Linked DNA regions of Homo sapiens. The protein of the gene in region 1 interacts with the protein of each later gene in a pairwise test. Each region holds a gene or a part of one and is shown on either strand. Other genes may lie near its edges.

Region 1 (7,780 bases):
TCCACCCTTGCCAGTGCTGACTCATTCTGATGCTTAAAAGTATGTTTTATGTATTTAAAAAGTGTTACATTAACATTTAACAAATATTTACTGAGTGTCCTCTGTGCCAGGTGTTTTTCTAGGTACTGGGATACAGCAGTAAACCAAAGGAACAAAAAATCCTGCCCTCAGGGAGCTTATATTCTGCAAAGTTCATTCTTGTAATTATATATCTTTGCACTACATATTTTGCTACAAATCTTGGCAGACAGGAATAATGATGATGATGGTGGTGGTGGTTTCCATTTTGTTAAACTTCTATTATGTGTCATCCATTATCCTAAGCCATTATAACAACCCATGTGGAAGCTATTATTGTACTGATTTTTGCACAGGAGAAAACTGAGACTCAGAGAGTGAAGTAAGTCCAAAGGCAGAGACTTAAAAAAAATGAGGCTAGGCATGGTGGCTCACACTATAATCTCATCACTTTGGAAGGCTGAGGTGGATCACCTGAGACCAGGAAGTTCAAGACCATCCTGGGCAACATAGCAAAACCCTGCTTCTCCAAAATTAAATACAAATTAGCTGGGCATGGTGGCACACACCTGTAATTCCAGATACTTGGGAGGCTGAGGAAGATGGATTGCTTGTGCCCAGGAGCTCGAGGCTGCGGTGAGCCATGATCATGCCACTGCACTCCAGCTTGGGTGACAGAGCAAGACCTTGTCTCTAGAAAAACTGTTGAGCTGGGCACAGTGGCTCACGCCTGTAATCCAAGCACTTTGGGAAGCCAAGGTGGGTGGATCACCTGAGAGGTCAGGAGTGTGAGACCAACCTGGCCAACATGGTGAAATCCTATCTTTACTAAAAACACAAAATTAGCTGGTGTGGTGGCACACACCTGTAATCTCAGCTATTCAGGAGGCTAAGGCAGGAGAATACCTTGAACCCTGGAGGCAGAGGTTGCAGTGAGCCGAGATCGTGCCATTGCACTCCAGCCTGGGTGACAAGAGTAAGACTCTGTCTCAAAAAAATACAACACGAAACCCCGTCTCTACTAAAAATACAAAAATAGGCCAGGCGCAATGGCTCACGCCTGTAATCCCAGTACTTTGGGAGGCCGAGGCGGGTGGATCACAAGGTCAGGAGATCGAGACCATCCTGGCTAACACGGTGAAACCCCCGTCTCTCCTAAAAACACAAAAAAATTAGCCAGGCGTGGTGGCGGGTGCCTGTAGTCCCAGCTACTCAGGAGGCTGAGGCAGGAGAATGGCGTGAACCCAGAAGGCAGAGCTTGCAGTGAGCTGAGATCACGCCACTGCACTCCAGCCTGGGTGACACAGCGAGACTCTGTCTCAAAAACAAAAACAAAAAAATAAATAAAAATACAAAAATTAGCTGGGCGTGGTGGTGGGCACCTGTAGTACCAGCTACTTGGGAGGCTGAGGCAAGAGAATCGCTTGAACCTGGGAGGTGGAGGTTGCAGTGAGCTGAGATTGTGCCACTGCACTCCAGCATGGGCAACAAGAGCGAGACTCTGTCTCAAAAAACAAAACAAAACATCGAAGTCCAGATTTGAATCCAGTACTTTCTTTCTTCAAGGCGTTGGCCACTTCACTACACATCCTCTCTTAGATGTTCAAAGGGTTTATGAATAAATAATGGAACTCTACGAAACCTCTTTGTAATACAAATAACCACTGCAATAATCTGTTTATAAAATGAAAATGTATACTTACTTCATCTAAAGCATTATTTACCCTCCAGGGGACATTTGGCAATGTCTGGAGGCATTGTTGATAGTCACAATGTCAGCAGCAGGGTTGCCACTGGCATCTAGTGCATAGAGGCCAGGGTGCCTTTGTCTGCTCTGGCTGGTATGACAAAATACCTTAGACTGGGTAGCTGACAAACAACGGAAATTCATTTTTACAGTTCTGGAGGCTGAAAGTCCAAGATCAAGGTGCCAGCAAATTAGGTATTTACTGAGGGCTTGCCCTCTACTTCATAGCTAATGCCTCTAGCTGCATCCTCATCAAGCTCCTTCCGGCCTCATTTATAAGGGCACTAATCTAACTCAGGAGGGCTCTGTCCTCATGACCCAATCTCCTGCTAAAGGCTCTTAATACTATTCCACTGCCGATTAAGTGTCAACATATGAATTTTGGGGGGACAGAAACATTCAGACCATACCACAGGAGAACAGACCTCTACAACGAAGAGAACTATCTGACACAAAACAGCGCTGAGATTGAGAAACCCTGACACATCATGAGGCAGTTGGATACACTTTAAAAACATTTAGACCCTTATTTTTCCTTTCTATTTTTAACATCGCTCACTGAATGTACTCTTTATGCATTGAAATAAACCTTGTTTATATTTTAAAGGCACCCGCCTCCATCCCCATCTTTCAATTTAAATTTAGTAATGGATTTTCCGGGAAAAGTGCATATCAGTTGAATACTTCTAAAAAACATATATTTCTAAGTTTTAAGTACCATTTTACCCAATTGTTTACAGAAACATTAACTCTAATGCTTTTGTATAATTTTAAAATATTATTCATATTCTGTTCTTCATTTATAAAAATGATGCCAAAGAGCAATGCCAGGGGACATTCTTCTTTAAACCGATTTACTGTAGAAATGATGGATGTGCACTGAGTCATCCACTCAAGCAAGTCTTCATCCTGGTAGCCATTTGGAAAGCGGTTGACTAGAGACCGACATGTAGTCTGTGACTGGGGAACAGTTGCTTTTTGTGGGAGACTAATTGATCTGTGTTTGATTCAATTCTGTGATATTGATCTTGACGGCATCATGTTTTCCTACTAAGTCCCAAGAACATTCCTGGTCTTCATAATCCCACTTCATGGTTTGAAAGTCAAAAATAGAAATTCATATGACAAAATGGAAGTCATATTCATTTGATCATTTTTCTTTTCCTTTAAAAACAGTCCTTAAAAGTTCTTTGGGGTAGGGTGGAGGCAGCACTTGAAGAGGTCAGCAGCCATGGCTTGGTATAAAGAGCTCCCCTGTTCCTCAGAGGCCTAGAATTTGTTTATGAAGGGCTCTGTTTCTTGACAGACATGACAAGACACAGTTTTTGAAGTCCTCCGCATCAAAGAATGTACACTTAGTTCAGCATGAACTTCTGCTTCAAGACCAGAGCGAGGTAGCTGCTTTACTCCAACTTTTGTAATGCTCCAAGAGATTAAGTGCCCTCATCTTCAGTGGACATCAATGTTTTGATTAGACAACTAACTTTCCTAATAAATTTCTGGGCTTCTTCTGAATAATCTTTCAAAAATTTTAGTGAGATTTCTGTACATACACTCGGGAGACAAAATCATGATATCCCTAGAGTTTTTATTACATCCTCATTATTCTTACCTATTTCTTCAGCAGTCCTAGCAATGAGAACCAGACAAGATCATCTTGGCCAAACGACCAATACTATTGGTTTACTGCCCCGTTTCAGTTGGAGACAAGAACGGTGGATCCTGGTCACCTCCACGGAGGGAACACAGAGAACATTCACTGTTAAATATGACACCTATAATTAGGAAAACCTATGGTTTTACCATAGCAGTTTTACAGACGAGGTTATTTTTGGGGTGTTGAAAAAACAGCAATTAAAAGCTTCCAACACAGTTTATTCATGCCCCAATAAATTATTTCCCCACCAAGTATACGCTCTTAAAGAAACGCCTGATGTCTGGCCTCAGTGTCCTCACGGGCTAACGTGGCAATTATTAAGGGTGTAGAATTTGAGCAAACTTTCTAAACCTCTCCTGCATGTCTTATTCTAATTCCACAGCCCCTTAAATCGCCTCCCTGGGATCCAGGCGGCTTGGAAAAAATGAAGTCTGAACAGCCAGAGACCTAAGGAATCAAGTTTCATTTACTAAGAAAAACTAGAAGGACTGCGATTAGATTAGGCAAGGTGGGAAAGGGATACCGGCAAGTAAAGCGCCGGAAACTTACAACTTGGGTTATTTTCTAACTGGCGTCTTGCAAAGGGACACCATGTAGGTATCCCGCTCGTCAACTTGTAAATGAACTTCAGGTTCTCTTTGGTGGCAGGAGAATTCTGAATGTGAGAACCTGGCGGCCGTTCAACGACCCCGCCCTCGGGGTCCCCAGGGGGCGTCCTCCGGCAAGCCTGATCGTCTGGGGCCAAGGCGCAGGGCGAGCAGGGAGGGAGGAGGAGAACCAGGGCCGGTGGCCCCGAAAGCACACACAAAGCGGCCTGACTCCTTTGGTGGGAACTTCCCCGGCCGCCAGCGGAGCGGGAGCGGGAGGGGGCGGCGGAGAGGGGGGGCGGCGGTTCCCCTCGCCGAGGCGGAGAACAGCGCGCGCTAGGCTCTGGGCGCGCGGCGAGCGCAGCGGCCGCCGCCTCCTCCCTTCCCCGCCTCCGCCGGCGCTGCCTCCTCCCTCCGCCCAGCTCGGCCTCCCTTGCTCCCTCCCCTCCTAGCTGGCTTCGGCGGGGACGGCGGCGGCGGCGGCGGGCGGGGAGGGCGTGCGCCGGCCGAGAGGTGTCGGCGGCGAGGCAAAGGAAGTTTCAAGTGGAAGGTCGTCCGTCGGCCGGCGCGTCCTCCTGCTCTCCTCCGCAGCATCATGGCGGAGCCGAGCGGCTCGCCCGTGCACGTCCAGCTTCCCCAGCAGGCGGCCCCGGTGACAGCGGCGGCGGCGGCGGCCCCGGCGGCCGCGACAGCAGCGCCGGCCCCGGCAGCTCCCGCGGCCCCGGCCCCGGCCCCGGCCCCGGCGGCACAGGCTGTCGGCTGGCCCATCTGCAGGGACGCGTACGAGCTGCAGGAGGTTATCGGTCAGTGCGGCGGGCGCGGCGGGGCCGGCACAGGCCGGGCGCCGAGGCCGGGCGGGAGGGGGCGCGGGATGCTGGGCTAGCCTGCATGCACGCCCTGGAGGCAGAGAGGCCGGCTTCGGGGCCTACTGGCTTCAACAGTTTTTTTTTTTTTTTTTTTTTTTTTTTTAATTTTTAATGTATTTGTTCGTTCTATGAGCGTTGGTGCTGCAGGAGGCGGCGCGGCGGATGTGACTCGCACTGCAGACGAGCCGCATGCTGCAAACTTTTATCTCAGGGATCGCCGGGGCGGTGGAGCGGAGGACCAGGCGGCGCCGCCGCATCTTCCTCCCCCCGCGTGCCGGGACCGCAGCCCGTGGCCGGTGGCCACGCGGACAGGCAGCCGCGGGTGGGGTGTGGTTGCGGGGGCCCCGCCCTGGGTTTCCAGGGCCCCGGGGGCCGCGTCCTGGGGGACTCTGCGGGCGCAGCCGCTCCTCTGCCTCCCGTCGTGACCCTCTCGTCGTGGGTAACGGGGCCACGTAGAAGCCGCGGAGGCCCCAGTGCTTTTCTGAGGCCGGGGAGGATGCTGGCCTCTCTTCCTGACAGCCGCCACTCCACGCCCGCCTTGCAGCCCGGCTCTCCGCGCCACTCGGCGCGCCCGGGTACCCGCCTCCCTCCGTGCCAGGGTGCGCCGCCTGCCGCCCAGTCCGGCTCCCCGGGGAAAGCGGGTGCCCTGGCCTCCTGCCCTGCACCGGGCCGATGCTTCCCTCTGTTTCAGGCCGAGCTGCAAGAGTGAAATCCGAGGCTGCCGGTGATCTGCTCTCTGCCTTTCGTTGCCTTCTGGCCGGCTCACAAATATCACCTTATCTTACATTTTTAAATACCTGGCAGAGTCGCAGGGCTCGGCGTTACTTTTCCTTGGGCCAAGCACTTGAAGGGCCAGGAGATTTGTTTTGTCCCTTGACTTAGAACCTTCCCTATTGGATCATCCAGTTTGAGAGTCTTGTCACTTAGGGAAGCCTCCAGGTTAAGTGGGCCCTCAGCGTCTAACCTTACTGACGCAGGGATGGGATGTTGCCTTTCCAGAATCTTGGTATATAAGTACAGCGATGAAAAAGGAGTTCAGAATATTTATCTTAAGTATTTTTTCTAACTTTCACTTCAAAAAATTCTTCACCTCCTTTTAAAAAAATTAAAACAGATATAAAAATTTCACTAGGTGTTTAAATGAGCCTTTATCACCTGCTATTGGGGAATAAAACAGCATAGACGGAAATATATATATAAATATATACATAAAAATATGTGAGAAAATGTTGGGCAGGTCCGTAACCTAGGATATATACAAGCTTCAGATAACCTATAATAGGCATCTGTAGACAAAATTCTTTGAAAACCCAGATCTTTCATAATTTTTGACCAAAGACTCTAAAGGGATGAGTCTTCATGTCACTGCCTGAAATAGCTTCAGGGGCTTCTCAAAGCCTGGAATATTCCATGGAAACCTCTTTAACCTGGCATATAGGCCCTGTACCCTCAACCTGCCTGCCTCCTCCCATTGTCTACTCTTCAGTGATTGCTTCCTGAATACACCGCTGTCTTCCGCACATCTGGTCTTCCATTCTTTGCTGCCTTGCAGAGGCTCTTCCCTCCTGTGAGTGCCCATCTTTGTGTACTAAATCTCACTCCGCTTCCAAGGTGAGTGTGAATATTCCTTGAAAAGCCTTCTGCTTCTTTCAAGGCAAAATGCCGTGGTTTCTTCTGCCCCTCTTTTTACAGACCTCATAGCATGTAACCTCATAGTTGTTATTTGCGCAACAAGATCTGAAGGCCTGCTGTGTCCCAAGCATTGCCCCACTTGCTAGCAATATAGAAATTAACAAAAGTGATCCCTGCCCTAAGTTGTTAGGAGACATAGGGAAAGGATCCTATAGGATGTGATGAGTAAGTACTGGGAGAGCCCGAAGGAGGGAGTGACTGCCAGGAAAGAGAAGGAAGCAGAGTATTTCTTAGTAGAGGTCGTAGTTGAGCTGGGTTTTAAGTCTGAGTTTGTAAGGTGCTTAATTATTTCCACTGTTGCCTTCACTAACCAGCTGTGAACTCTGACAGGAAGAGGTGGGCCATAAAAGTTGAATAATGGTATCTGCCACATAATTCTCCATAGAGTCCATAGGATTGGGAGAAGTTATAATCAATTTATATACCTACTTGGTCAATTATTAGGGTTAAAATACAAACGTTGCCTTTTGAAAACAGTATTTTTTTGTGAACTAATAAAATCTTAGTTTAAGTTGAGTGGGATTAATGGCAGGACTTCTTTCTGTTTGCAGTCCCAGCAGTGTTAATTATGGTTGGTCAGTTTAGTGGAAAAAAAGAAATTTACCTGAGGAATTTGAGAACAAAAACACCTGCTTATTCTACCCTGACTTTTGCGCATTTGCATTGTGGGAAGGGCTTTTCTACATTTAAAGTTTATCTCATATTTTCCCAACTAAAAGAGAAAGAGTTGGCCTGTGTGGAGGCCCTGTTATTGAAAAATCAAATTGCTGGAATAGGTTTTTCGCAAGGGCTTAATGTTTATAAGGAATTACAAACCTGTTTCCATTTAGGGTTTAATGCTAGTTGAGAGATTAAGACTGAACTTGTGGTTAAGCACTTTTGCTTAAACATTACACGCAGAAGTTAGCAGTTCAAACACTGAACCAGTTTCAACATGAATGCCAGTTGACAGCCTTTGCTTCTACCCGCCATACGGCAGGTGTCATATGATATGACTCCAGCAGTGTGAACCGTGACCAGCAGCAGGAGGCTCAGATGTGCCTGAACAGAAAACCAAAGGAGGCACCGTGTTTTAACTTTCCAGCATGGCACGGGCACGGAGGACTTTTTCTTCATTTCCTTCTGGGCAGAGTTTGGTCCCCCAGGATTAAGAGAGAATAAGTTTACTAAAATCCAAACAAAGCAGGTTCAGTTGTTTGACTTCAGTTTTAGA
Region 2 (7,420 bases), about 140 Mb from region 1:
CTCATAAGGAATCATTACCTATGGTGTCATTTGTTGGAGTAAAAATTATAGCAGGTGATTATAATAAACTGTGATGGCTCACTCTGTCTCTCATACACACATACCACATGCCAGTGCACATGCACACACCCACATGTATGCACGCATGTGCACATACGCACACCGCAAGCATGCATGCACACATATATGCACATACACCACATGCACACATGCACACATGCACATTTACATACCACATGCACACATGCACATATGCACACAAGCGCACATGCACACATATATGCATATATACCACACTCATGCACATTTACCTACCACCCGCATGCATGCACACTGCACACATGCACATATGCATTTACACACCACATGCACACACATATGCACACACCACATGCACATATGCACACCATACGCATGCACACATACATGCACATGCTCATACCACATGCATGCATGCACGTGCATATGAACATACACCACACATGCATGCACATGTGCACACCACACGCACGCACGTGCATATGCACATACCCCACATACATGCACACACACATGCACATACACCACATGCATACATGCACGATGCACATATGCACACCACACATACGCATGCACGCACAAATGCACATACATCACATGCATGCACACACACATGCACATATGCACACCACACACATGCGCACACACATGCACATTTACATACCACACGCACGCGTGTGCATTCCAGGATAGTATTAGGAGGGAGCTGTTTGGACACACAATCAAGCTCAGCCCCCGACAGTCACATGCCAAAGGAGGCTCTTAGTGTCCTTTTCTCTCGGGGCAGATAGTCTGGTTCACAGGATGTGTCACACGAAGTTGCATGTTCCCAGCCAGCAGGGGGCTGACCCCACCCGCCTTACCGCGTCCAGCTTCACCATGGTCTCCAGTTTCTTGATGGGTACCTCTGGCTCCATAGTCACCACAACCTCCCCTGTGGAGTGAGAGGAGGAGCCCCCATTGCACAGCACACGGCAGCGCCGGAGAAGCCTGACTGGACAGATGGATAGATGGACAGACAGGCAGAGGAAGGAGCAAGAGGAACAGTGAGATTGGCGGGGCAGGAAGGTGCGGAGAACTAAAGCTGATTCTGGAACTTTCTGAGGGAGAGGGGGACAGGCAGTCAAGGGAGAAAATATGGGCATGGGGAGGGAAGAAGAGAGCCCGAGATAAGGGGAAGCTGCGGAGGCCGGTGGGAGGGAGGTGGCGGGGAGGCCTGGGTCTTCTCCATCAACCAGCGCAAGGGGCTTTCTGCCCTCAGGCCCCCCCAGGCTGTCTCCAGTTCTGCCCTCTCTGGCTGTAGAGCTGGCGTCACCTTGGGCAGCCTTCCTTGGCCACCAGGGTGACCTTCTTCTATGCCCACCCCCTCGGCCCCAAAGAGCAAACTCTGGTCGCGGCTTGGACTGGGCGGAGACCTGGAGCCCTTCCCTGGGGGGCGTGGAGCCAGGCTTGGTGGCAGGGTGGATGTGGCCATACCCGTGGTGTTCCAGCTGGGGGCCGAGCGGTCTGGGGGCCGGTAGATGAAGCGTCGCAGGGAGCTGACGGCATGGGAGCCCACCAGTGTGTAGCGACCGAAGGCCCGGCAGTCCACCACACGGATGTTCAAGGGCGGGTGCAGCAGCTCGTTCTCTGGGAGGTCCTGGGGTGTTGGCGACAGGAGCCTGAGCCTCCAAGAAGGGGCAGAGGAAGCCGGCTGGCTGAGTGGAGCCACACTGGCCACAGGATGTCCTCCGCCAGGGCCTGCACTCACCACTTCAAACCACTTGACGAGGGTGTTGAAGTTGGGGTTCTTCTTATAATTGTGGATCAGGGACGACTGCACCCCCTTCCCTGCACACTCGATGTCCACCCGTGGCCGGTCCACCTGGGCCAGGTTCACCCGCTTTAGGTCCCGTAGGCCCCAGAACAGCACCTGGGAGAGGTTGGAGGGTGGGTGCAGAGAAGAGAGCCCCTTAGTCAAGGGAGCCAGCCATGGGGGTGCTGGACCATCCAATAGGGAACCGGGCAGTGGGATGGGCAGTAGTTCACCCCAGATTTCAAAGGGTGGGAGCAGGGCCAGGAGAGCAGAGGAGGGGCAGGCGTTCTCCAGGGATGAGGGTGGGGCTGCCCGGAGAAGGGGTGCAGGGTCAGGGGTGCAGACAGGAGGGCTGGGCATGGTCCTGGGACATGGGAGTGCGACTTGGTGCAGATGGGGGCAGGCCCTGGGCTGGGGCAGGAGCCTGGGTCTGCTGCTGGCTCCTGGTGATGGTGGTGGGAGGGGGATGACAAGCCACTTCCCCTCCTGGGTCCTCAGACTCCTCATCCAAAAGGGAAGGGCCACACAGAGCCCTCGCACCTCCACTCGGTACTTGCTGAGCACGGGCCGGATGCCCATGGGCACGGGCATGATGGGACCTCGGTCCACGTCCACCGGGCCATTGATGGGGGGCAGGTCAGCCTTCCCTGCTGGTCCAATCTGGGGAATGGGGGTCACAGGTCACACACTGGGGAGCCCAGGGACAGGGTCTCTTTCCCCATGAGTTGTTTGCCATGATCTGGGGAGACAGGGAAACCCCCTAAGGACCACGCCCCCAGCTTTGGTCAGGATGGGTAGGAGAGAGGCCCCTAGGCCCCAGCCCCCAGGCCCCAGCTCCAGGCCCCAACCCCCAGGACCTAACGCCCAGGCCCTAACCCCCCAGGCCCCAGGCCCCAGCCCTCAGCCCCAGCCCCCAGCCCCAGGCCCCAGCCTCCAGCCCCCAGGCCCCACCCCCAGGCCCCAGACCCCAGGCCCCAGCCTTCAGGGTCCAGCCCCCAGCCCTAGGCCCCAACTCCCAGCCTCCAGTCCCCAGGCCTCAGCCCCTCTTCCCTGCAGTCCCACCTGCAGCAGCTCGAAGGCCGCCAGCAGGTCTCCAGCTGTGGCGTTGCCACGGTAGATCTGGTAGTACTCGAGCTGAGGTGGGAAGCGGGGTGGGCAGTACGCCTCGTCTGCCATCTTCACCAGGGGTTTGGCGAAGGTCCGGCCCATGAAGTCAGCTTTGCCCTGACGCAACAGACAACCCAGAAGCCTCTTGGTGCTTGCTGTCCACACCTGTGATCTCGTTTGGTCCTTACCACAGCGCCATGAGTTGTTGTAAGGGACAGGTGTGATCACCCCATTTTACAGATGAGGAAACCAAGTCTCAGGGCCCACCAAAGACTTGTTCAAGGCCAAGCAGTCAGTAAATGGCAGATGCCCGGCTCAGGACTAGACATGAGGTCCTCCTACCTCTAGTCCAGGGCTATCTGGGCACCTCAGCAGCTGAGGTGGTATGTGAGAAGGTGGCTCGCTAACTCTCGGGGGTCACCCCAATCCCTTACTCCCTGCTCCAGAACCTCCACGGAGGATGGCAAGGCTGTTACTGGTTGTGGTAGGTGAGGGCAGGGGTCGGGGAGCCCTGGGGTGGGGAGGCTAGTGACAGCAGGACTTGCTGGCACACCTCCAGGGCTCAGTCTGTAGGAGACAGGAGGTGAGGATGTGCTGGCCTGGGAAGGGGTCAGGCTGCCGCAAGCAGGCAGGAGGAGCTAGATGTCAGCCCCCACTCCCAGCTTCCCAGCCAGCACCTGGCCAAGGAGCTCTGCAGGTGGGTGGCGGAGGTGAGGGCACAGCCTCAGCGCAGGTGGAGTGCAGGGAACAAGGGCCAGGTGTGGTGCTGCTGGGGTCCCTGGCACCAGAGCCCACCCATACCATGGAATCCTGGTCATAGATTTCAATGACAATGATGGGCGGATCGTCCCTCAGCTCATGAGCTTCACCATAGAGCTCCAGGTTGTCGAACACCAGCATCTGGTCCCAGGTGGGACACAGGGTCTCATTCAGCACCTGCAGCATGGGATGGGGAGACAGGGGACAAGTGACAGAGGGGGGGGCAGATGCACAAACAGAAGCCACCCCTACTCACTCAGCTTCCACGGAACCTGGGGGCAGGAGTGACAGGTGTCTTGATTCTTCCAGAAATCTTAAAATCAAGGCTAATATGAGGTTTGGCCCAAGCCCCCTGCCAATGTCCTCCTTGTCGTCCCTGTCTTGTGAATATAACCACAGCTAAAGCCCGTAGCCTTTCCAGTGTGACCCGCGTCTGCTGCAGTTATCTGCAGGGCTTCCCCTGAGAAACCGGGGCACTGGCTGACCTGTGGCTCCAGGCCCCACAGGCTCACAGGCCCCACAGGCTCCAGTCCCCACAGGCTCACAGGCTTCTGGTGCTCTCAAAGCCAGAGCCACTCCCTCCTCCCAGGCCCTCACCTCTGTGCACTGACTCTGATTGATGAAGAAGACGCGGGCAAAGGGGTCTGAGAGTCCGCTGCTGTCGGCGGCAAAGAGGCTGCGGGCCTGGTACATGTGCGCTCGGAGCTGGAACGCCTGCTTCTCTGTGGGGAAGGGCAGCCTGAGGTTCCAGGATGGGCAGCCCCTCCGGCCCCCTCCCAGGTGAGGCTTCGAGTGAGGGGTCCTCACTCACTGGTGTAGACCAGGCTGACGGGTGGGAAGGCATGCAGGCCCAGGCCCTGGGCTGCCTTGACCTCCTGGAAGCCACAGGGCAGGCCGCACAGGAACTCCTTGCGCTGTTTGCTGAGGCCCAGCCACAGGTACAGCTCCACCTTGGCCTGCACTGTCCAGCCTGCCGAGCCGAAGCCCCGCTTCCCTGGCAGCTGGGGGTGGGCATGGGGTCACCAGGAGCCTGACGGCTGCCAGGGCCCAAGAGGTGGGGAAGGGGCAGGGGCCGGCAGAGGCCCTGGTCAGAGCTGCCCTGCCCCTTCACAGCCATCCCGCTGGGCTGGGGTCCGGTGGAGGCAGGAGGATGGGCAGGGGGCCGTCATGCCCCCTTCCCCACCCCTTCCCCCACCTCCTTCCCCACCCCTTCCCCCACCTCCTTCCCCACCCCTTCCCCCACCTCCTTCCCCACCCCTTCCCCCACCCCTTCCCTCACCCCTTCCCCCACCTCCTTCCCCACCCCTTCCCCCACCCCTTCCCCCACCTCCTTCCCCACCCCTTCCCCCACCCCTTCCCCCACCCCTTCCCCCACCTCCTTCCCCACCCCTTCCCCCACCCCTTCCCCCACCTCCTTCCCCACCCCTTCCCCCACGTCCTTCCCATTCTTGGCTCTTCTCTGAGCACCTGCTGCTTGAAGGCCCCACCCTGTCACTCAGGCTTCCAGCCCCAGGTGGGGGCTGCTGCTCCCCTGAAAGGACCCAGGCCCCCATCCATCCTGCCCCCTCCAGCACCTTAAGGAAGAGCGTCTTGACCTTGGCGCAGTCCTTGCCAGTCTCCTCCTCCACGATGGAGAAGAGCAGGTCCTTGGAGGGCACACGGGCATAGGCGACACGCTTGTTGTTGCTCATCATCCAGATGAAGATGTCGGGAATGCTGTGCTGGGGCTGGGGGTTGGGGGGTGGCCAGGGGCAGTGGGTAAGGGGGTCTAGCCTCCTGATTGAGCCCCCTGATCCTGAGGGGCCCCAGAGAGCCAGCCCTGGATGAGGCAAAGCCCCGACCCCTTGGGCCGCACCTCGTCCGCCAGGAAGCGCAGCTTCTGCAGGAAGTTCTGGCACAGCCTCAGCTTGTCCCGCACCGTGTGCCGCTTCACCTGGGCCCGCAGCATCCTGGCCTGCTGCCCCATGTTTTCCTGCGAAGGAGGGGGTGTCAGTGAACCCAGCAACTGGGGGACAGCTCGGGCCATGACAAAGGGGGTTGTGACACCTTCTCACAACCAGGCCCTCCCTCCAGCCCCCGCCGTCCAGTTGCGTCCTCACCAGCTCCCTCATGCAGGACTTGAGGCGCTCCCGGTCAAGCCTGGTGCGGGATGAGTGGCCCTGGTCCTTGTCAGCGAGGGAGAGGAAGCGGCTGGGGGTAGGGCGAGCCGGGGTTTAGCGAGCCTGACCAGCAGGGGCTCTGTAGATTCTTCCTCATCTGCCCAGCCCTGGCAGGGTCCCCTTTGTCCAGTTCCGCCTCATCCTCCCCCCACCTGCCGCCCCTCCCTTCTCACCAGCAGCCACAGCTCAGCTCCTCCAGGACGCCCCGCAGGCGACGCTCAGGGTAGGACTTCTCCGTTTTGATCATCTCCTGTATGTCGTTCAGGCCTTCTTCCTGTGAATCAGGAGTGTGGGTGATGCTGGGCCACAGCCCCGCCTCCCCAGCCTCCCCAAATGCCTCCTCCCTGTTGATCAGGGGAGTGAGGGACCTCATGATCTGGGAGCTCTCGCTAGGGCCATCCTGAGTATCGGTCATCATGAGGAAGTCATCAATTTCCCAGGTTCTGTTCTCAGAACCTGGAGATGTTGGTGTTCATGGGGGTTCTTCAGTTCCTGAAGGAAGAAGCCACCTCTGGGCTGTGAGTCTGTGGCTCTGGTGAGCTCACAGGGCCTGGGCAGAACTCACGGCTACGGGGCTCAGGGCTGGCCAGAGACAGAGGGAAACCCTAGGACTGGATGTGCCAAGATCCTGACGTCACTCCAGAATGCTGGAGCCTGTGGCAGGGGATGGGAACAGATGCCTGGGGGAAGAGGGAGTGGCTCTGGCTCTGAGAGCACTGGGAGGGCTGTGAGACCCAGGTCCCACAGGAAACACAGGTCAGCTTGTACCCCAGCTCCTTAGGGGGAAGCCTTGCAGATAACTGCAGACCCAGGTCACACTGCAAAGGCTATGGGCTTTAATTGTGGTTATAGTCACAAGACAGGGATGACAAGGAGGACATTGGCAGGGGGCTGGGAGCAGACCTCATATTAGCCTTGATTTTTTTGGAGGTTTTAATTCATTTTTATAAAATATGAGCTGGCTGAGCTTCAGGGAACTTCAACAGGGAACAGCAACAGCTCAGGGAAGGGCGGGATTATCTGCTGGTCCCTGCTTCCCCAGGCTGGGGAGAAGGAGGTCTCATGCCAACAGCTGCACTCCTCGCCCAGTCAGTGCCCATGGCTCATGGGGGGAGAGGGGTGGGCAGAGGAGGAGGGGGCAGCTCCTGAGCTTCAGACACTGCTCGCTTCTCCCTTTTCCCCATTTCCCTTCCCTAGCCTTGCTTTTTTATTTTGTTTTATTTTATTTTATTTTATTTTTTGAGATGAAGTTTTGCTCGGTTGCCCAGGCTGGAGTGCAGTGGCGCCATCTTGGCTCACTGCAAACTCCGCCTCACGGGTTCAAGCGATTCTCCTGCTTCAGCCTCCCGAATAGCTGGGATTACAGGTGCCCGCCACCAAGCCCCGCTAATTTTTGCATTTTTAGTAGAGACGGCATTTCACTATGTTGGCCAGGATGGTCTCGAACTCCTGACCTCAGGTGATCCACCTGCCTTGGCCTCCCAAAGTGTTGGGATTACAGGCGTGAGCCACCACACCTGTCTCCCTAGCCTTGCTTTTAAGATTTCTGGAAAAATCAGGG

What was found.
Region 2: the proteins of STK39 (region 1) and OTOF interact in a two-hybrid assay, tested with the Homo sapiens proteins (one study listed by BioGRID).

What each region holds. Positions count from the first base shown.
Region 1 is NC_000002.12:168,244,260-168,252,039, reverse strand, and holds the start of STK39 (STE20/SPS1-related proline-alanine-rich protein kinase), read left to right. Parts: upstream 1-4,444; 5' UTR 4,445-4,604; coding exon 4,605-4,812; intron 4,813-4,978; exon of another isoform or gene 4,979-6,486; intron 6,487-7,780. UniProt on the Homo sapiens protein: Effector serine/threonine-protein kinase component of the WNK-SPAK/OSR1 kinase cascade, which is involved in various processes, such as ion transport, response to hypertonic stress and blood pressure.
Region 2 is NC_000002.12:26,471,617-26,479,036, forward strand, and holds part of OTOF (otoferlin), read right to left. Parts: intron 6,509-7,420; exon of another isoform or gene 6,278-6,508; coding exon of another isoform or gene 6,134-6,277; coding exon 6,033-6,133; intron 5,891-6,032; coding exon 5,800-5,890; intron 5,673-5,799; coding exon 5,556-5,672; intron 5,428-5,555; coding exon 5,275-5,427; intron 4,702-5,274; coding exon 4,512-4,701; intron 4,423-4,511; coding exon 4,298-4,422; intron 3,878-4,297; coding exon 3,743-3,877; intron 3,059-3,742; coding exon 2,897-3,058; intron 2,495-2,896; coding exon 2,375-2,494; intron 1,952-2,374; coding exon 1,790-1,951; intron 1,679-1,789; coding exon 1,516-1,678; intron 1,034-1,515; coding exon 903-1,033; intron 1-902. UniProt on the Homo sapiens protein: Key calcium ion sensor involved in the Ca(2+)-triggered synaptic vesicle-plasma membrane fusion and in the control of neurotransmitter release at these output synapses.